Linked DNA regions of Homo sapiens. The protein of the gene in region 1 purifies or fractionates together with the protein of each later gene. This does not show direct contact. Each region holds a gene or a part of one and is shown in the gene's direction. Other genes may lie near its edges.

Region 1 (3,500 bases):
GGGCAAAACTGGAAACAGTCCAAATGGCTGTCAGTGGATGGGTTAAATGAACTATGGTTCATCCATACAATCCAATACTATGTAGCTGCTCTGAAAAACGAGGTGAGGCCGGGCACGGTGGCTCACACCTGTAATCCCAGCACTTTGGGAGGCAGGGGGATCACTTGAGCCCAGGAGTTTTGAGACCAGCCTGGGCAACATAGCAAGATGCCGTCTCTTTTTTAAAAAATTATTTTTTAAATTAGGTGGGTCTGTAGCATATTGTTCTGCCGAAAACTCAAGATGTTGTATTGTACTATGACCTATTTCTGTAAAAAATATTAGTTTTATGCAGAGAAAACTGGAGTAATTTCCATTAAGCTTAGCTAACAGTGGTTATCTTTATAAGGGTGGGCTTGGGCAATTACAAGGTGAGTGCCGCAAGTTATATGTTGTTGAAGTATACATGAGTATAATCAAGGTTTTTGCAGAGGTTGTCCAATCTCTCTTTCTCTCTGTCTCTCTCTCTCTCTCATTCTCACTCTCTCTTTCTCTCTCTCTTTTTTTTTGAGACGGAGTCTCGCTCTGTCACCCAGGCTGGAGTGCAGTGGGGTGATCTCGCTGACTGCAACCTCCACCTCCCAGGTTCAAGCGATTCTCCTGCCTCAGCCTCCTGAATAGCTGGGACTACAGACACGTGCCACCATGCCTGGCTAATTTTTTGTATTTTTATTAGACACGGGGTTTCATCATGTTGGCCAGGATGGTCTCGATCTCCTGACCTCGTGATCCACCCACCTCAGCCTCCCAAAGTGTTGGGATTACAGGCGTGAGCCACCGTGCTCAGCCTTTCTCTCTCTTTTTAAATAGAGACAGAGTCTCACTGTGTTGCCCAGGCTGGTCTTGAACTCCTGGCATCAAGCAACCTTCCTGCCTCAGCCTCCCAAAGTGGTGGGATTACAGGCATGAGCCACCACGCCCAGCCGGAGTTGCACAGTCTTAAAAAGCAATTTTTTAAATTGTCGTATGTTCGGAAGGGAGGGTCTTATTCAAAAAGACTTGGACGCAGAGCAGTGAGTATCCGGGGAAGGGAGTTGTCTGAGGTGGTGGCTTGGTCAGAACTGCATTTTGGTGAAATCCATTGCAGGGCCCAGCCGTGGTCCAGCCTGAAGCAGGCATTCATTCCAAGGTAGAGGAGCTCCTGGAGCTCCTGCCAGGAGCCAGACCCTGTTCTCAGTGCTGGGCACCCAGACAAAGTCCCTGCCCTTGTGGACATCCTGGCAATTCCATAGATGTCTGGGAAGACTGCAGAAGCCAGAGAGAAGGGCCTTTGAAGTGGAGAGGGGCGAGCTGACCCAGACAGCCTCACATGCAGGGCAGCAGGGTGGATGGGAGGTGGAGACTGAGGCTGGGAGGCTGGGGGAGGAGGCTGGGGCAGGACCCCCGGAGGAGAGGACAGGCTGGACCAGGTGGAGCGCCGGGGAGGGAAAGGGGGTTGGTGGACAGACCCTTAGGAGGCTCAGCGTACATGCTCTGGAGCTGAAGGGCTGTGGCAGGAGGGCGAGGAGGGAGGCGGGGGCAGGAAACATCTGGCTGATGGGGGGGACAGTACGATCGCATTGAGATGAGGCCTGGGAGGAGGATGGGCTTGGAGGAGATGCCAGGGTCCATTTGGGACATAGTAGGAGTGAGAGGCTGGGGGGCACCTAGGGCAAGGTGTCCAGGAAGCCAGGGAACCCCGGATCTGAGGGCAGAGAGATGGTATCATGAGTGACGAGGCAGAGGTCATTGGCATGGATGAGACAGGTAACCCCAGGAAAGTGGAAAGAGAAAGCAGAGAGGCCCTGGACAGAGTCCCAGAGACCTGCCAGTCTGGAGCTGGGCTGAGGGGAGGCTTCGAGGAAGGAGACAGAGGTTGCTGGAGAGGTGGGCAGAGTGTCTGAGGCCTCGAGCAGGGGGCACATAGGTCCTTGAAGTGAGGGCCAAGGCTTTGCATTGGAATCATTCCCAGAGTGACTTGGGACATTATTCAGAGGCCCCCAGGGCTGCTGGGAAGGGACAGCAGGCCCACGCTCCAGGGGACCCGGGAACGAAGGGAAGACCCCAGGCTGTGATAATAACAGCAACAGCCAGCGCTTACCAAGCACTTCCCCCGCCCCTGGTGCTGCGCCCAGCACCCAAGCTCCCTTTCCAAGGTGAGGGACACCAAGACTTAGAAAATCAAAGTCACGACCAGGCACAGTGGCTCACGCCTGTAATCCCAGCACTTTGGGAGGCCGAGGCAGGAGACTTGCTTGAGCCCAGGAGTTCAAGACCACCCTGGGCAACAGAGGAAGACCTCGTCTCTACAAAGCAAACAAACAAACAAACAAAAAATGAGCCTGGCATGGTGGCACGTGCCTGTGGTCCCAGCTACTTGGGAGGCTGAGGTGGGAGGATCCCTTGAGCTTGGGAGGTTGAGGCTGCAGCAAGCTGTGACTGCACCAGTGCACTCCAGCCTGGGCAACAGAGCGAGACACTGTCTCAAAAAAGAAAAGCAAAGCAAAGCCACTCACATGAGGTCTTGCTCCTGGGGACGGGCATGGCCAGGACTCCAACCCCGGCAGCCTGTCCCAGAGCCCTGGAGCTAGCCCCAGTGCAGTCTCTCCACCACCCCGCACTTCCTCAGGCCACCTTCCTGCCACAGCCTTTTCCCCAAACCTGGTATCACCCCCTCTCCTCCCTCCCTAATCCCACCTCTCGGGCCTGGCCACTCCACCCCACCCCTTCCAGGACTCAGATTCAGACTCTGAGGGAGGAGCCGCTGGTGGAGAAGCAGACAGTGAGTATCTTCCTGGAGGGACAGGGAGCAGGGTTCTGGGGGGCGGGGGGATTTCAGGGCAGGGGTGTGGGTGATACCTCCTCAACTCCATCAGGAGTGACATCCAAAGTATGTAGCAGTGGGTTGGGTACCAGTGCCAGAGCAGGCTCCTGGAGGCCGCTGGCTGGGCCGGGCCTTGTGCCTTTAGATGTGGGGAGGCCGGGAACCCCAGGGCTGGGGCCAGGGTGCCGGAGACATCCATGCCCCTGGCTGAATGCCCGTCCTGCCGCTGTCTCTCTTCTTTCCGGTCAGTGGACTTCCTGCGGAACTTATTCTCCCAGACGCTCAGCCTGGGCAGCCAGAAGGAGCGTCTGCTGGACGAGCTGACCTTGGAAGGGGTGGCCCGGTACATGCAGAGCGAACGCTGTGAGTCCCCTGTCAGGATTGGGCCACTTTGCCTGGCTCCTGGCCCCAAGTGACCTCCCATCCCCAGCCACTTGAACCATTTATTGAAACCTTTTCTTTATAAGTAGCAAGAAACCCAGCTGGAACTGGCTTAAGCCAAAAAGGAGTGTGTTGGCTCTAATCCAGCTTGAAGCACGGCTGGGTCCAGGTGCTTCCACTTTGTTAAAAATCATAACTCTCTCTGATGCTGCTTTTCTTGTTTTGGGGTAAAGGTAACTCCTGGCAGCTGCAAATGCAGGTTCCACTAGCCTAGGAG
Region 2 (3,500 bases), on another chromosome or scaffold:
CTCTGTCGCCCAGGCTGGAGTGCAGTGGTGCCATTTCGGCTAGCTGCAAGCTCTGCCTCCTGCATTCACGCCATTCTCCTGCCTCAGCCTCCCGAGTAGCTGGGACTACAGGTGCCCGCCACCACGCCCAGCTAATTTTTTTGTATTTTTAGTAGAGACGGGGTTTCACTGTGTTAACCAGGATGGTCTCGATCTCCTGACCTTGTGATCCACCCGCCTCGGCCTCCCAAAGTGCTGGGATTACAGGGGTGAGCCACCACGCCCAGCCTTAATTACTTTCTTAATCAATTCTTTGAGCACATGGTGCAATCTCTCATACTCAGGAAGGGCATCTCTTGTTTCAGCCATTCTTATGAACAAGTGGTATGTATATACATGTTTAACCTATTAACATGTTACATGTTAATCTATTAAATGATTACATTCTCCCAGTTGATTTGATTATGTCATCTCTGAGAACAGCTGTTCCAATCATCTATTTCTTCCAGAAGTACATCTCACAGGCCGCTAAATATACTGGTTTTTTTAAACTAGTAGACATTTAAATAATTACATGTTTAATCTATTAAAATGTAGCAAGTAATTAATTTCCTCTCCAACAGGCTGTAAAGTTGATCTTGGAGGTTTTGCTGGTCTTTTTGATTTAAAAGCAGCTGGTTTCAAAGATCCCCTTCTGGCCTCTGGAACAGATGGCGTTGGAACTAAACTAAAGGTAATCAGACACCTTTGTGAATAAAGGCCTTTTAGGAAAGATGAGGAAATTTATATCAAATATGTATTTTTCTTCTCTTGACATATATGAGCTAAAAAGGACCATGCCAAATAACCATGTAAAATGGCTAAAATATCTGCACATTTCTAATAACAAATTATTATTTAGATTATATTTGGATGGAAGGGTACTTTAGAGGATAAAAGGGGATGCTTTTAGACCAAGTAGCTTGTCAGAATTTCGTGTTCTTTTGTTTTTAGGTGTTAAGAGCAGCTAATCAAATGGATAAGATACAATTTTGAACTTATTCCCTAATGTGGATGTTTATATTGTTCTTACATAGATTGCCCAGCTATGCAATAAACATGATACCATTGGTCAAGATTTGGTAGCAATGTGTGTTAATGATATTCTGGCACAAGGAGCAGAGCCCCTCTTCTTCCTTGATTACTTTTCCTGTGGAAAACTTGACCTCAGTGTAACTGAAGCTGTTGTTGCTGGAATTGCTAAAGCTTGTGGAAAAGCTGGATGTGCTCTCCTTGGTATGATCAGCCATTTTAATCAATAACATGTCATTCTTCTTTTTGTGTTTTAGCCCTATGTAAAAATGTGATCAGTGCCAATGTAGCTAGCAAGAGAGACTGTATATCACAAGATGCATATATGTGATATGCACAAATGAAATATAGGTAAAACTACCTGAATTAAATTTAGAGCCTGCTACCTTCAAAGCCCTCCTCAGGGGTTTGTCCTCTAGACCCGTACTCCCAAACTGTCAGGCAGGCCTTATCTTTCTTCCCAATTTTTGGCCACCTTTTAACATCCCCATCAGTCTCAGTAGCCTCCTCAACAAACAGGTCTAGGAGTTATTTCCTCCTTATTGACCCCACGGTACAGGCAGATGGGTTCCTGGCATTCCGGATCTTAACTAAAGCCAAATTTTCCCATAGAGTGACATAAATAATAATATACGCCCAAGTTTTATAGAAGTATCTTTATACATGAAATGTTTGAGCAAAATGAATCTGTAGGTTGATCAAGGAACAAAATAACCTCTTTTTTTAATTTAAAAAAAAAAAAAAGGGAATCTCTCTCTGTCACCCAGGTTGGAGTGCAGTGGTTCAATCACAGCTCACTGCAGCCTTGACCTCCTGGGTTCAAGGGATCCTCCTGCTTCAGCCTCCCAAGTAGTTGGGAACTACAGGCATGTGTCACCAACCCAGCTAATTTTTGTACTTTTTGTAGAGATAGGGTTTTGCCATGTTGCCCAGGCTGGTCTTGAATTGCTGGGCTCAAGCTATCTTCCCATCACAGCCTCCCAAAGACACTGCCTCTTTTTTTTTTTTTTTTTTTAAACAGAGTCTTGCTCTGTCACGCAGTCTGGAGTGCAGTGGCGCAATCTTGGCTCACTGCAAGCTCTGCCTCCTGGGTTCACACCATTCTCCTGCCTCAGCCTCCCGAGTAGCTGGGACTACAGGTGCCCGCCACCACACCCGGCTAATTTTTTCTATTTTTCAGTAGAGATGGGGTTTCACCGTGTTAGCCAGGATGGTCTCAATCTCCTGATCTCGTGATCTGCCTGCCTCGGCCTCCCAAAGTGCTGGGATTACAGGCATGAGCCACCGTGCCCGGCCAGAAACTGCCTCTTTTATATGACCATTTAAACCAGAAATTGTGCCATCTTGCATCTGCACATGTGTGCATCTAATCTCAGCTGGTCTACCCAGGACCCCTTGAGCACCAACCCTAGTCCTCCACATGACCCTTTTCCACGCTGACAAGATGAAAGAAACAACCAAATTGCAGGCACAATTGCGTAATGATGGAAAAGAAACAGAAAGAAGGTGGTTCAGCTACAGCAGATGATAAAAACTTCAGTTCTCCTTAAGAAGTTAAGGGTAAACAATATCTCTGGTATTGAAGGGGTGAGTATGTTTACAAATGAAGACCAGAGATCCACTTTAACAACCTAAAATGCTGGTAGCATTTCTCTGGGGCAGTGAACACTTTCACCATTACAGGCCATGCTGAGACAACGCAGCTGATAGAAATGCTACCAGCATCTTAAACCAGCTTGGTGCAGACAATCTGACTAGTTTAAGGAGACCGACTGAAGCTCTGCCCAAATAGTCTGTGGATGGAAAAGCACTGCTTGCTAATGGAGGGGATGGTGATGAAGTTCTAGATCTTGTAAGGAGTTTTGATGAGGCTATTAAGAATGAGGCAAACTGAATTGAGTCAACTTCTGAAGAAGAAAAAATATGAAGTAACTAGGAGCTGCTATTTTACATTATGACTGCTTTCTGAAATTGTTTATGGATCTGATAAAATTTAGATCTCTAATATTTTAAGCCCCATTCCTGTTGGACACTGCAGCTCTTTTCAGTTTTTGCTTATACACAATTTCTTCTTTTTTTTTTTTCTTTTTGAGATGGAGTCTTGCTCTGTGACCCAGGCTGGAGTGCAGTGGCACAATCTCGGCTCGCTGCAACCCCCACCTCCCAGGTTCAAGCAATTCTCCTGCCTCATCCTCCCAAGTAGCTGGGATTACAGGCATAAGCCACCACACCTGGTTAATTTTTGTGTTTTTAGTAGAGACAGAGTTTCGCCATGTTGGCCGGGATAGTCTCGAACTCCTGACCTGATCCACCTGCCTCGGCCTCCCAAAGTGCTGGGATTACAGGCGTGAGCCACGATGCCCAGCCCACAATTTATTCTTTGTAGCTAATTAAGCTAAAGAAGCCTGGGAATAAAGTTTGAAACAAACAAAAATTGCCTTTCAACCACC
Region 3 (3,500 bases), on another chromosome or scaffold:
ATCTAACATGGATTCAAAGAGTAACATATTTTGGCTACTCAATGAGAAATTTAGATTTAATGTGCATTGGTAATGAATAACCATTATATGAGCAGAAGAGTTTTTGAGCAGAGGAATTATGTAATAAAAGCACCACTTTGGGAATATTTATCTGGTGCTGTTGGAAAGGGAGGAAGAGACAAGAGTTAGACATACAGACTAGTAGAATAATCCAACTGCATGATCATGTAGACCAGGGCTGCTTAATCTGAGCACTATTGACATTTGGGGCAAGCTAATACTTTGTTGGAAGCTGTGCATTGTAGAATGTTTTGTAGCATCCCTGGCTTCTAACCACTGGATGACCCCTCCATTTGTGACAACCAAAAATACCCTCTAGACATTGCTAAATGTTGGGGCATTAATTGGGAGTAAGAAGGCAAAATTGCCCAGAGTAAGAACCACTGACGTGCATCTAAACTAAATCAGTATCCTAGAAATTCAATTATAATGTATAATATGAAATTTCAACAGTGATTTTTTTCTTTGTATCTTCTTACATTGTCTGAAGCCTTTATTATCCATTTATTTTATGGTTTTTAAAAAAGGGCAGCTGACTGGGCACAGTGGCTCACGCTTGTAATCCCAGCACTTTCAGAGGCTGAGGCAGACAGATCACTTGAGCCAAGGAGTTCAAGACCAACAAATAAAATAAAATAAAGACAGCTTTTTTGACAAAAACAAGAACACAAAATGTATAAAAAATTTAACAAAAACAAGTAAACAAATTTTTTGTAATAAGCTTTCTCTAACAAAAAATTTATAATGATTACAGGCCGGGCGCGGTGCCTCACGCCTGTAATCCCAGCACTTTGGGGGGCTGAGGCAGGCGGATCACGAGGTCAGGAGATCGAGACCATCCTGGCCAACAGGGTGAAACCATTCCTTCTCTACTAAAAATACAAAAAAAATTAGCCGGGCATGGTGGCAGGCACCTGTAGTCCCAGCTACTCAGGAGGCTGAGGCAGGAGAATGGCGTGAACCCAGGAGGTGGAGCTTGCAGTGAGCCGAGATCGCGCCACTGCACTCCAGCCTGGGTGACAGAGTGAGACTCTGTCTCAAAAAAAAAGAGAAAAATTTATAGTGATTACATTTAAGTCTAAGTACAACTTATAGAGGTTTGTTTATATTTTAAATAATATTTTATATTTAAGAATAGCTAGCTGGTAAGGAATTTTGCAACTTTAAGCTGTTGGTTTATTTATCTTTTAAATTAGTGCACCTGGGGACTAACCCATTAATCAGTCAGATTTCTCTTAAACATTTTTTAGGGGAGAGGGAGAGGAGCGTTGTTCTTTTTGGCTTCATAACTTTCTTTTAGCAGCATTTCGTTCATCTGGCTTTAATTTGTAGAACTCTAGCGGTAATGCACTGGGTGTTCTTTTAAGGGAAGGCCCACACCATCAGTTGGGCAGAGGTGCTGATTTTAGCCCTGTTCATCATCAGCTACTAATCTGTAGTGCCTTAGAGAATAATCTGTTCTTCCCCCCAATCCCGGCACAAGAGACACTGTTAGTCAGGAACTTAGAATTGATTGAGCAAAGCGGGATGGAAGCAGTATGTGAGATTCTCGAGATGGCAAGTTTTTTCTGATGCTCTTAAGAACTGGTGATAAGGGAATGATGTTCTGAGCAAAGCTTGATTTTAAGTCAGAAATGGATACAACTCTTGAATATGATACCTTTTTTCCTTCTTTTTTCCCCCCGCCCTTGCCTCTTATTTCTTTAATTTTAAAAGGACAGAAAAAATTTCAAAGCTCTAGGACTTTTTGACTTTAGTATATGTGTGTGAAATTTTCCTAGTGGTCCATAGTAGTAAAATAGCTGGTAAATCATTTGAGTCTTTTGTGGCTTATATATTGCAAAATAAGCAGTTGTAGCAGGTATGCTGGGGAGATGTTATGCAACAGAAACTACATATTTATTGAATTTCTTTATATTAAGAGATTGGCAAGGAAAAGGTTTTCCAAGTGCTTAATGTATGATAGTATACTAGGAGCATTATAAATGGATCATTTCATTTAATCCACAAAACAACTCCAATAAATAAACTCCATTTATCAGATGAAGAGATTGAGGCTGAGAAAAGTTGAGTATTTCCCACAAAGTCCCACTACTGGAAGTGCTGGCACACAAATTTGAGCACGTCTCCAAACATCAAATCTTTGGTATCTTCATTCTACTCACCATTTTCTTTCACTTACAGCAAAATTAAACATGTAGGTTCTTAGGAAATCCCAGATTTCATAAAGGAGTAATTTGGTGGTAATTATTTGCATAATAAAATAATTCTTCTATTTATCACAGAGTTTCTTTCAATAGAGACTCCCAGAGATTCTTTATTATTAGATATACATCTAGGAATACAAAGAAACTTAATGCTAAGACTAACGTACAAGAGTGTCAACAGTGGAAGACTGCTAGAAATTAAAGATCATTTGCTTATTCATTCAACATATAAGCACCTGCTTTAAAAGCACATAATGGATACTGGGAGTATAATAATGAGCAAAAACAGACGTAGCCCCTACCTTGTGGAGTTTGTAATATAGTAAGGAAAACATCACTCAAATACTCTCCTAAATTAATACAGAATTATAGCAGTGGGAAGTATTACAAAGGAAAGGTACTTGGTGCAATTAGAGTGTATAATAATGGTGCCTAATCTCATCTTTTTCCTTGTATCTAGATAGGAATGGTAAAATTAGACATCTTTGAGACTTTATAAAATTTAAGCTATATAAACAAAGGTTAAACAAGAGGCTCTGGAGATCCCAAACTAAGTTCATTACTGTTCTTTCTTGAGGAAATAGAAAGGGCTAAGTCATTTACTACTTTTATTTTTAAAATTATAATTAATATACTCATTGCAGAATTATTAAACATTTACTTGTTTGTTCAACAAAATTTGTTGAGCCTTTACTGTATCTAAGGCATATTAATCACTTAATATAATTTAGATGTACTGGTACAATGTTAGCTAGTGATCAGTAACCAGATTTTACTGGTTTCCGTTGTAACCTTTTTAAATCATTCAACAAATTATAAGCTGGTGTATGTGCTAAAAATAAAAAATAACGCTTGTATCATGATCAGGTGTGAGATATCTCAAAAGTAGTTTATTACTAAAAATGATTTGACATTACCTAGTAAAGATGAACATATGCATATTCAACAACCCAGTAATTTTATTCCTAAATATATATCCTAATTTGGAGAGATTCTTTTTTGTGTTTTTTTGATGGGAGTCTTGCTCCTATTGCACTCCAGCAGCTATTCACAGGTATGATCATAGCCTTGAACTCCTGGACTCAAGCAGTCTTCCCAGCTCAGCCTTCTGAGTCGCTGGGACTAAAGGCTCACACCACCGTGATAGGCTGGAGAGATTCTTAAATATATACCCCAGGAGATGAATCTAAGACTGTTGCAGCATTGTTATAATTGGAAAAACAAAACAAAACA
Region 4 (2,661 bases), on another chromosome or scaffold:
AAGGCAAAGATACTAAAAATTTTAAGTCCGACTTTATTTTTCCTACAAGTGTTTAGAAATGCTTCTGGGATTTGCTAATATTATCTGTCCTTGGGAACAGTATTGAAAAAACTGCTTAGTGGTATTACAGCTTTAGCAAACCTACCTCACAGCTGGGATGAGAGGATAAAATACAACTAATTTTGTACCCTATAGTGCCTAGAGCAGTCCAAGTGCTAAATAAATATTTACTGATTAAAACCAAACTATAGCTACTCGGGAGGCTGGAGGAGGATCGCTTGAGCCCAGGAGTTTGAGGCCATTCTGGGCAATATAGCAAGACCCTGTCTCGAAAAAAAAAAAAAAAAGAAAAAACCAAACTAACCAAAACTCTGTAAAAGAGTGCTTTGAGCTCTACAAATACCAAGTATTTATTGTGGTATATTTTTAGAATGTAGCCATACAGTGTAATTATGGGTATCTGTCATGGATCACAATTATTATTCATAGTAAGTCATTGTGATACAGAAGTTTGTTTCTTCACTTCCCCTTAAGAAGCCAACTATAGTAATCATGCAAAGTTGAGGAGTATGTCCTTCAGGGATATAAAAAGAAAAACAAATCTGTTTTTTGAGCTAAAAGAGCACATCCAAACAAGAATTTAACTGGCTAAAATTTAGTAATTACTGTTAAGTAACTATCAAACTTGAAATCTTACAAGATAAATGGTTAAGATGTCTTGAGTATTTGGGATGGGGGCCTGTGAGTCTGATTGAGACATACATTTTACAGAGTAGCAGCACTGGAAAGGGCTAGTCCAACCTCCCAGCCTCTGCTTGGGTCTCCGCTGCCCCAGCCACACACATCCTAGAATTCTTGTAAACATATCTGGCTCTGTGTTAACAGTCACTTGTTATATGTTTTCTAAGAGATTAGTTCTTCCTGTGATTTTTCCAAGTACGCTGAAAGTAGTAGTATGAACTTAAGGAGGCTAGTCAAAGAAACTTGGAGTTATAGGTATTTTTAAAGAATAAATCCTCAATTCCATCATCACTTGGCGGGGAGGGGGCACTTATTAAGCATTTTAGATAATAAAACTGGTTAAGCTTACTCTGGTAGAACAGACAATCAAATCTGGGGATTGCTGAGAACAATAATAAGCTGAAGTATGGCTCACAGAATCCTAACACAAATCATTAAGTCTCTAGTTAGATTTGTTATCCTAAAATTTTTCATAGAATTTTAAAATCTAATTCTGACTTGTATGGTTAAGAAAAGCAGTTAAATATTTTACTACTTATCAAGGGCTTTTAAAATAAATAAATCTGATTGATAGGAAGAAAGGCAAATAAATACCTATGTAGACATTCTATAATAACAAAGAGCCATAGATGATAAAGGAATTAGATTTTAATGTAGAATGGGTGGTTTCTGAAACAAAGGTATGTGGTACTTTGTAGTTATTGATGAGAAGCCAGTAACCAGTAGTGTTTTCCTAGATATATGCCCACCCTCACACAACTTTCTTCATTAACAAACATTAAATATGCATTTGTATCTTATTAAATTATATTGTATAATGCTGAAGGAAAACAAAAAGTGTTCAAATAATCATAACTTCTACATTACAGGTTCTGTTTAGATGCAGAACTAGAGGGGCCAGGGTAAATGTAGATAAAGAGATATATAGCACCATGCTTCTTAATGCTTCATACTTTTGCAAACAGAAAAAAAAAGTTTTACTTTTATTATAAAACTTCATCTATGGTCAAAGTAAACACTGTTACATTTAAATTGCTTTTTAAAAACAATTGCGATCTAAAAAGTCAAAAATCTGAAATTTAATAATATGAGACTTACACTGAATATAATGTTCATTTAGAAGTTGCTGTGGTCCACTTCATTTATAAGGAACAAATATTTTTACAGTACACTATAGCAACAGCAAAAGCCCTCTCTCACCCTGATAGGAATGGGTTTGCTGGGTGTCTAGAAGTTAGATTCCTGCTGAATAGAATTAGCCATCCTTAAAAGATTTTAATCCAATACTGAACTGTTTATAAAATGCTTTCTCTATTGTAATGTACTGTAAGTAGTGAAATTCTGTATATACTGCTATTTTCTGTCTGTTCATTGTTGTGAACTTCTTATGTATATTAGTGAAATAAATTTTCAGCTTTCATGTTGTTTCCTAAACATTCATAAGTATAACTAACTATTAAGAGATTTCTTCCTTTCTTGAGTAACAAATTTGGTGATTATATTCTTTCTGATCCAACCCCAAAAACTAGCTATTCTGAAAAGGCTGATGTTCACTAATGGGAAGAATGAAATGACCCTTCACCTCTTAAGGGAAACAGGCCTCCGCCATTCCCTTTCAAAACTATACTTCTTTTACTTGATACTCAAAACTTCTGCACCAAAATCAGTCAGTATTTTTCCAGAATGCCTTTATTTTCAGTATCATAGAATTTAAATACAGAGTCAAAAGATGATTTATAAAATATAAAACATTTTCTGCTTGGCCGTATTTGAAGACAAGCTGAATACATATCTATGTTCTGAATAAGTCCACTATGGATATATATAGGAAGAGATATACATATATCCATCCACAGATACACACACACATATATATTTCTGCATGTATATATACATAATTCTTTCTATAGTTACAGGAAA
Region 5 (2,577 bases), on another chromosome or scaffold:
CCTGGGATTTTAGAGAGGAGCCAGCAGGGACTGAGTAGAGGGGAGTGGCAGAGAGAGGAAGAGGCCTGTACAGGGAACCATACACCAGAGGCCTCAACCTTTCTTGCAGGACGTGGACAATGCCTACATGATAAAGGTGGAGTTGCAGTCCAAGGTGGACCTGCTGAACCAGGAAATTGAGTTTCTGAAAGTTCTCTATGATGCGGTAAGGAGGCTGCTCCGGGACAGTCCCTTACTTCCCACCCTTCTCACCAAATGAAAGTCCTTTCTGCTTGGTGAAAAAGTGGCAGAAGTGGGGTTTATGGACCAGCTGACTTCAATCTGCCATCATTCCAGGCCACTGGGGGGGCTTTCATAGCATAGGTCTTGTGGGTGAGGAATTTTCTCCTCCGATGTTATGGGAATAAGGTTCAGGAAACACCAGGACAGCTTCCCCTCCCTCCATTCCCCAGATGTCCATTTCCCCTGGGGAAGAGACAAGCCCTGTGCCCATTCCTGTGCCTACTGTACTTCAGAGGTCAAAATGCATTTGTCTCCTATCCCCCTCCCCAACCCAAGGGTGCACAGATGATTTCTGAAACAGGAAGTCCATTTAAGGTATTTGCCATGGACAAGCTTCTGTCTGGGGGCACTTACCATAACTGGCTTAAGTGCTGAATGTTAACTAGGAGGCTCAGAAATACAGGTGCCTCTCACTACAATTCTCAGGACAACCTTGGGAGAGGCCCAGGAGTAGACGGTTACATGATTTTCATCCCACCTAGTGTATGCTTAGTCTGAGGGTCTGCGTTTCCCTTATGCTGGGAGACAGAGGCCTCCTGTCTGCCTGTAGCTATGGCAGGATGTCATGACCAGACCTTCCTGTGTGTTGTAGGAGATATCCCAGATACATCAGAGTGTCACTGACACCAACGTCATCCTCTCCATGGACAACAGCCGCAACCTGGACTTGGATAGCATCATCGCCGAGGTCAAGGCCCAGTATGAGGAGATCGCCCAGAGGAGCAAGGAAGAAGCGGAGGCCCTGTACCACAGCAAGGCAAGTAGAGGGAATGTAGGAAGAGCCACAGCTCCCTGCCATGAGCTGGGTTGCACCCCCAGCTGGAAAGTGTACAGTAAGGTTATTGGTTTTTTGTTTAATGGTAGTTGGGCACCATTCCCAAGAAAGGATGTTGAGAATGGCACCAAGTCCTTTTGGGCATGTGAGACAGTCCCTACCTCTCATGAATGCAGCCATGACATTTAGCTGGGTTGACCCTCCCTGGACCAGTAACCAGCTCTCCTTCACTCCAGTCAGTCTGGAATGTGAGCCAGGCTGGAACTTCCTTGCAAACTGTCCTCTTCTCCCCATATCAGTATGAGGAGCTCCAGGTGACTGTCGGGAGACATGGAGACAGCCTGAAAGAGATCAAGATAGAGATCAGCGAGCTGAACCGCGTGATCCAGAGGCTGCAGGGGGAGATCGCACATGTGAAGAAGCAGGTGAGGCCCAGCCCTGTCCAGCGAGGGGCGGGAGGTTGTCTCTGGGTGTGCGTGAGAGTGTGGTTGTGTGTGAGTGTGCATGTGAGAGATGAGAGACACTGAGATATTGCACTCTAGCATGTATCGATCCCAAATTCCCCAGCTTAACATAATTTATGGCTTATTATAACAATTCTTAGAGTGCTCTAATAGACATTCCAAAGTAAGGATTATCGAAGGGAAAGAATTGTGCTCACTTGTTTATATGAGGAAAAGGGAGTCATAACAAATAGAGCAAACGTTAGTTTGATTGATTTGCTGCAGATTGCCGATGGAGCTTCCCGTTTGTGCTCAGCACAGGCCCTGAGCACCAGCCGACTGGTTTCATAGAGGGGCAGTGAGTATTGAGGGCAGCTGGCCTGGGGCTGGACGTTAGCTTTGGAATAGAAAAGGTAGAGGCAGAGAGTGGATTCCATCAGCAGCAGAAGCTTTGCCAAGCAGACCATTTCAAATGTTTTCATTTCCATCTGTAAAATGGGATCATGATTCAGGCCCTGTGATGTGAGGATCAAAGGGCACTATGGGGAAAGCCAAAGGGTGTCATCAACGGTGACATGGGAAGAAGATGTGCCAGAGACAGCGGCAAGTCTTAGCACAGTTGTTTGCGACTAAACTCCAGAGGGGACCTAACACTCCCAGGGCCAGTGGTTCTGGCTTCCTGCACTTCGAACACCTCTGCTCTCTGTCCGCCTCCGTCAGGCAGAATCCATTCTCTGTCCTTCTGTCATAGTGTAAGAATGTGCAAGATGCCATCGCAGATGCCGAGCAGCGTGGGGAGCATGCCCTCAAGGATGCCAGGAACAAGTTGAATGACCTGGAGGAGGCCCTGCAGCAGGCCAAGGAGGACTTGGCGCGGCTGCTGCGTGACTACCAGGAGCTGATGAACGTGAAGCTGGCCCTAGATGTGGAGATCGCCACCTACCGCAAACTGCTGGAGGGCGAGGAGTGCAGGTGAGGGCACTGGGAAGGGAGAAGGGGACCCTGGCCCTTCCTCTCATCTCTCCCAGAGCCAGGGCTGGAGGCAAAGACAGGGAAAGCAGAGAATGGGGCAGGCCC
Region 6 (3,500 bases), on another chromosome or scaffold:
GTCTGTTTGTCCTTGTCTCAGAAAATAGACACTCTGCTTATTTTGGTTATCATACTCTGCCTGCTATCACACAGAGTAAGGCTATAGGATAGGACAGAAATTTTTTTTGTTTTATTCCTATGGAAAGAATATCTTTTTTTTCCTCAAAAGTTTTGATTTTAGTGTTGATGTCAGAGCTGTTTACTTTAGGGAACATTGATTAAAGACTGTTCGGAAGAATTTGAAAATGAAGATATGGATGAAGTATGAGGGTTTTGTTTGGGATAAACTAGCACATGGATTCTCTCCTCTTTCTTATCGATGTAGAGACCATTGGGTTGTGCATTATATTTGAATCCTAAACTTCTGAATTTTCAGCCAGGGGTGGTAGTGATCTGGTAAGAGAAGAGGATTACTTTCAGGGCGTGATTATTTAACAATACATGGATAGGATGACTGGTGAATGAAAATAAAAAAGCACATCTCACAAACAAAATCCAAACAAAACACAACAAACTTATTACATATAGTTATAATTAATTTCCATATAAAAGAAGCACTTAGAAGACGCCGCCCACTTCCTTTGAAAGCTGTTCAGTGGAAAGTAATCTGATCATGACAATACTTTCTTGGGGGGCCCCTGATATTTAGTATTCTGAAATTGGATAGGAAACTGTTTTCTTATTTGCATCCTTGTTCTTAAAAGCTTTCTTTTGGATTTTAGGCAATGCAGTATGGCTTCCTTAATTTCAACTCATTTAACCTTGATGAATATGAACACTATGAAGTAAGTCTTCAAGGATCATGTTTTCAACTCTTCCTCCCCCCGCCCAGCTTTATTGAGGGGAATAATTGACAAATAAAACTTATATATACTTAAGATGTACAAAGTAATGTTTTGATATATGTATACACCATGAAATGATTACCTAATCAAGCTAATTAACATATTCATCACCTCACATAATTTAGTCTTTTGGCGTGTGTGATGAGAATACCTGAGATGTACTCTAGCAGATTTCAAGCATACAGTACACACATTAGATCTCCAGAATTTACTTATCCTCTGATGGTTTGTACTCTGACCAAAATTTCTCTGCCTGTTTTTAATTTTTCTTTTTTTAAATTGAAAAAAAAAGAGAGAGACCAAGTCTCGCTCTGTTACCTAGGCTGAAGTGCAGTGGTATACATGGCTCACTGCAGCCTTGAACTTCTGGGATTAAATGATCCTCTCTCTTCAGCCTCCCAAGTAGCTGGAATCACAGGTATGTACCACCATGCCAGGCTAATTTTTTAATTTTTATTTTTGTAGAGATGGGGTTTCACTTTGTTGCCCAGGCTAGAGTTGAACTCCTGGCCTCAAGCACTTCTCCCACCTTGGCCTCCCAAAGTGCTAGGATCACAGATGTGTGCCACTGTGCACGGCCCTGTTTTTAGCTTTCTTAATCACCCATTTCACTTACAGAAGCAATATTCTTGTTTTGTTTTAGACGTGTATAGAGTGAAAAAAAGTCAAGTCTTCATCTTCTTATCCCTATTTCTCCTGTCCCAATTCTCAGTGGGAATTTCTGCATTTGATGCACAATTCTAGAGTGAATGAGTGTGCCCCGTGTGTTCTTTATACTGTTTAGTTTAAATGTATTTTAGTATTGATGGCTGTCACACAGTGATTGAGATGCTTTTAAAACCCTTAGCATAGAATAAGATGAGATGAATAGTCATTATACACCTAATTATCTCTGGAAAATATCTTTGTTTTTGCCATAACCTTCGGTTTGTCAGGACACTTCTGGTTGCAAGTTACAGAAAGTAAACACAAATAGCTTAAATAAAAAAGGAAAAATCTGCCAGGCGCAGTGGCTCATGCCTGTAATCCTAGCACTTTGGGAGGCCTAGAGGGGCAGATTGCCTGAGCTCAGGAGTTTGAGATCAGCCTGGGCAACATGGTGAAACCTCATCTCTAAAATACAAAAAGTTAGCCAGGCGTGGTGGTGGGCGCCTGTAGTCCCAGCTACTCAGGAGGCTGAGGCAGGAGAATCACTTGAACCCGGGAGGCAGAGGTTGCCGTGAGCCAAGATCACCCCACTGCACTCCAGCCTGGGTGACAGAGCAAGATTCTGTCTCAAAAAAAAGGGAAAAATTTACTGGATTACATAAATTAAAAGTCCAGGAATAGGATTGGCTTCTAGCATGCCCCTTCAGGTGCTCAGACACTTAATCAGAAATTGGACTTGAAGTTAGTTTTATTCTCAGGCCAGCCTTCTCCAGTAGTGATAAAGATGGCCACCAGCAACTTTGACCTGCCAGTTTGGCAAAATGATCAGAAAAGTGTAATCTTAGCTCCATCAGAAGGCCCAGGAATGCCTCTCACTGGCCTGACTTACGTCATGTGCCCATCTCTGCACCAGCCTGTGTTCTTTGGCAGGGCAGGGCTAAGGAATACTCTGGCCAGCCTTAGTTCTCTGGCCATCCCAGGAGCCTGGGGCATAGGGTCAGCCCCATCAAACCAGCCGGACCAAAAAAAAATTTATTTTCTAACAGTTTTATTTTATTTTATTTTTCTTTCTTTCTTTTTTAGAGACAGGGTCTCACTCTGCTGCCCAGGCTGGAGTGCAGTGGTGCGATCTTGGCTCACTGCATTCTCTCTCCCAGGTTCAAGTGATCCTCCCACCTCAGCCTCCCAGTAACGGGGACTACAGGCACGTGCCACCATGCCCAGCTAATTTTGTAATTTTTTTGTAGAGATGGGATTTCGCCATGTTTCCCAGCCTGGTCACAAACTCCTGCACTCAAGGGATCTACCTGCCTCAGTCTCCCAAAGTGCTGGGATTACAGATGTAAGCCACGGCACCCAACCACACAAAATTTCTTAAAAACATAGGACAGGGCCAGGGAGAGATAAGCCAGGCAAAACCACAGGTGTGTTCTATGTTTTTTAACATAGTATATATATTTTAAAAAGAATAAATAATTTGATTCTACAGCTTTATCCTCCAAATAGGGAATGAGTAAGATACTGTGCTAAAGCCCTTTTCAGCCCAGAGTAGTTGTAGCCTCCTGTCTTCTTACCCTGCTGTAGTTACCTTGAGCAGACTTGCTCCCCAGCACTGGGGAGATGATTCCTCAAACAGCAGCACTTCATGTGGCAGCATCTTGAATCCTCAGAGAATTCTTTTTCACAACGTCCAAAGTAAATATTATTTCAAACTCTTACGTTTAACTGAACTGTTTTTTCAATTTCAGTTAATAATGACACTCAGTTGTTTCTGTGATGTACCAAAGATGTAAGAATACATTGTAGGATTCATTAGGGCCAACCCTGTCTTTACTTCTCTGATAGCAGTCCATTTCTAAAGTACAACGTACATTTAACTAGCACCTTAAACTTACAGAATATAGCTAAGTTATTAACACCTTTTTTGCGCTTGTCCTTAAAACATTAAACATTTGAAACAAGTTACTTTGTCTATGTAAGCAAAACTGCTAAAAACACTAGTTGGTATTTGTTCCTTTTGTAGTGA
Region 7 (3,500 bases), on another chromosome or scaffold:
TTTATTTACAGAACAGAGCAGAGATGGAGTCGGGGGGCAGTCTACTAGGTCCCCCATCCTTAGGACCTGCCTGTTCCTGTCCCTGGCATATCCTGGCCCTGAGATCAGGTCCCCCCCCATACCCTGGGTTGCAGCCCCACTCCTTTGTCTTTGGCCCTGGACAAATCCTTGGCCTTTCGGGTCCTCAGCGTCCCCATCTGTAAGAGTGAAGGGACCAGCTCAGCGGCTCCTGGTCACTGAGCAACCCCCTCCCTTGCGTCAGGCCCTGTGCAAAGTCCCCAGTAACTGATCTCTTGGGCAACCCCAGGAGAGGATAGAGGCCAGGGCGCAAAACCTTTTGCCCAAGGTGACTGTCAGCACACCCTGGGGGCTCCGACCCGGGGGCTGCGGGAAGTGAGGGCCACTTGGAAGGGCCTTTTCACCTCAGTGTGCTCAGCTGTCAAATGGATGGTATTGGTGTCTGCCTAGGGGAGTCGCTGTGAAGGTTGACTGAGTTTACCGGGGCCTGGCCCCAGGAAGTGCCCCCACAACCTTCACAGGTTGTTACAGGCCTTTTGTGCTCCTGGACTTCCTTTCCCGGCTTTTTTCCTGTTTTGCCACCTCCGACCCTCTGAAATCTGAGCCCGCTGTGGGGTGAAGTGGGAGTAGGGGCTGGTCCTGGGAGCCAAGGACTGGGAATCTGTAGATCCCTGAGGCCGGCTGTGGGTTCTGTGGCCGGGTCGTTCCCCTCTGGTGCCCTGCAGAGCGTGCCCGGCCTGCAGCCAGGTGGCCAGCTGGGTTTGAAGGCTGGCTTGGTGGCTTCCTGCCTGTGTGGCCTCGGTTTCTGAGGTTCTCAGTGCTGGTGTCCCTCAGAGTCACTGGGGGCTGGTTAAGAAGCAGGTTGCTGAGCCAGGTCCAGGATCCCAGCAGGAGGGGCGGTGACACCTGGCAAGTCTGGCATGGACCACGGTGGGGGAAAGGCCCTCACGCCCCCCTAGCCTGTGCCCGTTACCCCCTGCCCTCCCTCCCACATCCTGCTCTGGCCACCCTGGTATCCTGGCTGGTCTTTGAACTTGCCAGGGACACTCCTGCCTCGGGGGCCTTTGCACTGCTCTTTTTTCTATCTGGAACACTCCTCCCCGGACACCCCCAGATGCATGGCACACTCCTTCACACCCTAAAGCCTCTGCACTTCTCAGCAGCCCGCCTGTTTCAAGTGGCACACACACAGCCTTCCTCACCTCTCCCCCTTTTCCTTCCTGGCTTTAAGGTTACCCCGAGCACTTACCACTACCACCTTCTAAGGTGCTATCTAGTCCGATAGTTTGTTTCATTTGTTATTCATTTCTCCCATTTTGTTTTGTTTTGTTTTTTGAGATGGAGTCTTGCTCTGTTGCCCAGGCTGGAGTGCAGTGGCAAGATCTCGGCTCACAGCAACCTCCGCCTCCCAGGTTCAGGAGATTCTCTTGCCTCAGCCTCCCTAGGAGCTGGGATTACAGGCACACGCCACCACACCCAGCTAATTTTTGTATTTTTAATAGAGACAGGGTTTCACCATGTTGGCCAGGCTAGTCTTGAACTCCCGACCTCAAGTGATCCGCCCACCTCAGCCTCCCAAAGTGCTGGGACTACAGGCGTGAGCCACCGCACCCGGCCCCCTGTTGTTTATGCTCTACAAGGGCAGAGTTCTTTGCTCTGGTTTGCCAGGCCCTGGTATAGCTAGACCCTGAGAATGTGGGCAGGAGCCCTTCACAGCTGCTCCATAAATCGTTGATGAATAAGCAAATGATTCATTAATGTCATTTCGGGTAGTAGGAAGTCCTATGAAGAAAAACAAAGCTGGGAGAAGGAGTGGAGCGTGCAAGGGATGGAACAAGGGATGGGGCGGGGAGGCCTCCTGAAGAGGTGACCTTTGAGCAGGGGCCTGAAGTGAGCAGCCAGCAGAGTGTGGCTGCCGAGGGTTTGGCGTGGGCAGGAGAAGTGACCCTGAGCCCGCAGTTGGGCCTTTGAAGGCCTTAGAGTTTCTGTAGTTTCTTCCTGGGCTGAGGAGAGGCAGCTGCTCCAGGTCCCTGGCTCCCAAGATCCCCACAACCCCCAGGAGTGTCTCCTGCGCTAGGGGCAGGGCTAGCGGAGTCTGCCCAGCAGGAGGGAAGGGGTTAACCACAGACCTCCTGGGTTCTCCTAATCAACCCCAGGCCTCTGGAAGCCCCACTTGCAGCCCTGGGAGGGAACCGCTCGCCTCCCTGCCCGCTGGCCCCCGGCCAGCCCGTTTCCCTGCCCAGCCACCGACCCGGCTTTCATCTGCTCACAGGGGGCCGATTCACAGCAGACCACCCCAGGCCCGGCACCCGCCTGCGATTCCGCGAGGCTGTTAAGAGTCGGGTGTAAATCTCCTGACAGGCCGCAGAGCCGGCCTCGGGCCCGGCGCCCCACCCTGCTGCTGGGTAGACAGTGGCTGCTGTGTCTGGGTCACAGCCGCACCAGGCGGCCAAGAAGGCTGCCGAGTGGCTTCAGATGGGTGACGGGCCTGGTCATTGGAGCCCACACTGTCCCCAGCAGACGATGCTGTTCCTGTGGCCCTGCCCGACTCTGCTTTTCCCAAGAGGCTGAACACTGAGCTGGCCTCTTGCCAGCTGGACCTTACGGCCAGGTGACCCAGCTCTTCTCTCATGGAGGTCTTGGGAAGCGATGACCTTAGCAGCTGAGCTCCATGTGTGACCTTTCCAGGTTTGAATCTCAGGGGTGCCACACACCGTGTGACCTTGACCGTGTGCCTCCACTTTTCCATCTGTAAAACGGGGGTGATAGTCACAGCCTGTCAGAGGGATATGACCCTTGGAGACGACATGCATGGCCCCCCTTGCACAGTGCCCGGCACATCATGGATGCCTGCTAAAATGGTTGCCACTCCTATGACAGGGGCTTGTGTTGGGCCTGCATGGAGGCAAGGGGGTAACCCTGATGGTCTCTTGGTTCCCCCAGAAGCATCAGGTACCTGGCGGGGGTAGGACCCCAGGCTGGCCAGGCTGGTGGTGGGGAAGGATTCCCTGGGGACAGTGGTAAAGGAGCTGCCAACCCAGAATCCAGCCCTGGTCCTCTAGCTCCCACACTGCGTGACCCTGGTGAGTCCCCAGACTGGCTGGGGCCCAGCATTCCTGCTCCCACTTTGGCCTTTATCATATGCCTGTGAGGTGGGTCACCCCCACTGCACAGACGCATCAGAGAGGAGCTGTTTGCCTAGGAGCAGATGGCCAAGTCAGAATGGGAACCCAGAACACCTTCCTCAAAGGCCAAGGCCTGGTGGGCTGTGTAATTCTTGAAACCTTTCCTGACCCTCGGGGGTTAGAGGTGTGATCCCCATTTTGCAGATAAGACAGCTGAGGCCCAGAAGGCAAGAGTGGCTTGCCCAAGACAGTGACCACTGGTGGGTGAGAGCTGCCTGGTATGAGCTTGGGGCCACTGGGCCCTTGGGAGGGGCAGGCTGGGATCTGCCCTCCCATAAGTGAGGGTCATAGACACTA

Evidence for each region.
Region 2: the proteins of SIRT2 (region 1) and GART purify together in Homo sapiens (affinity purification with mass spectrometry; one large-scale study listed by BioGRID and IntAct). This does not show direct contact.
Region 3: the proteins of SIRT2 (region 1) and CDC27 purify together in Homo sapiens (co-immunoprecipitation; one study listed by IntAct). This does not show direct contact.
Region 4: the proteins of SIRT2 (region 1) and RAB3GAP2 purify together in Homo sapiens (affinity purification with mass spectrometry; 3 studies listed by BioGRID and IntAct, with this or other methods). This does not show direct contact.
Region 5: the proteins of SIRT2 (region 1) and KRT2 purify together in Homo sapiens (affinity purification with mass spectrometry, with the first as the bait; one study listed by BioGRID). This does not show direct contact.
Region 6: the proteins of SIRT2 (region 1) and CDC14B purify together in Homo sapiens (co-immunoprecipitation; one study listed by IntAct). This does not show direct contact.
Region 7: the proteins of SIRT2 (region 1) and RUNX3 purify together in Homo sapiens (affinity purification with western blotting; one study listed by BioGRID). This does not show direct contact.

What each region holds. Positions count from the first base shown.
Region 1 is NC_000019.10:38,893,119-38,896,618, reverse strand, and holds part of SIRT2 (NAD-dependent protein deacetylase sirtuin-2), read left to right. Parts: intron 1-2,463; exon of another isoform or gene 2,464-2,751; coding exon 2,752-2,800; intron 2,801-3,091; coding exon 3,092-3,205; intron 3,206-3,500. UniProt on the Homo sapiens protein: NAD-dependent protein deacetylase, which deacetylates internal lysines on histone and alpha-tubulin as well as many other proteins such as key transcription factors.
Region 2 is NC_000021.9:33,518,118-33,521,617, reverse strand, and holds part of GART (trifunctional purine biosynthetic protein adenosine-3), read left to right. Parts: intron 1-602; coding exon 603-712; intron 713-1,055; coding exon 1,056-1,254; intron 1,255-3,500. UniProt on the Homo sapiens protein: Trifunctional enzyme that catalyzes three distinct reactions as part of the 'de novo' inosine monophosphate biosynthetic pathway.
Region 3 is NC_000017.11:47,182,796-47,186,295, reverse strand, and holds part of CDC27 (cell division cycle protein 27 homolog), read left to right. Parts: intron 1-3,500. UniProt on the Homo sapiens protein: Component of the anaphase promoting complex/cyclosome (APC/C), a cell cycle-regulated E3 ubiquitin ligase that controls progression through mitosis and the G1 phase of the cell cycle.
Region 4 is NC_000001.11:220,147,793-220,150,453, reverse strand, and holds the end of RAB3GAP2 (rab3 GTPase-activating protein non-catalytic subunit), read left to right. Parts: 3' UTR 1-2,161; downstream 2,162-2,661. UniProt on the Homo sapiens protein: Regulatory subunit of the Rab3 GTPase-activating (Rab3GAP) complex composed of RAB3GAP1 and RAB3GAP2, which has GTPase-activating protein (GAP) activity towards various Rab3 subfamily members (RAB3A, RAB3B, RAB3C and RAB3D), RAB5A and RAB43, and guanine nucleotide exchange factor (GEF) activity towards RAB18.
Region 5 is NC_000012.12:52,646,635-52,649,211, reverse strand, and holds part of KRT2 (keratin, type II cytoskeletal 2 epidermal), read left to right. Parts: intron 1-109; coding exon 110-205; intron 206-874; coding exon 875-1,039; intron 1,040-1,356; coding exon 1,357-1,482; intron 1,483-2,251; coding exon 2,252-2,472; intron 2,473-2,577.
Region 6 is NC_000009.12:96,536,344-96,539,843, reverse strand, and holds part of CDC14B (dual specificity protein phosphatase CDC14B), read left to right. Parts: intron 1-703; coding exon 704-766; intron 767-2,795; exon of another isoform or gene 2,796-2,898; intron 2,899-3,500.
Region 7 is NC_000001.11:24,913,277-24,916,776, reverse strand, and holds part of RUNX3 (runt-related transcription factor 3), read left to right. Parts: intron 1-3,500. UniProt on the Homo sapiens protein: Forms the heterodimeric complex core-binding factor (CBF) with CBFB.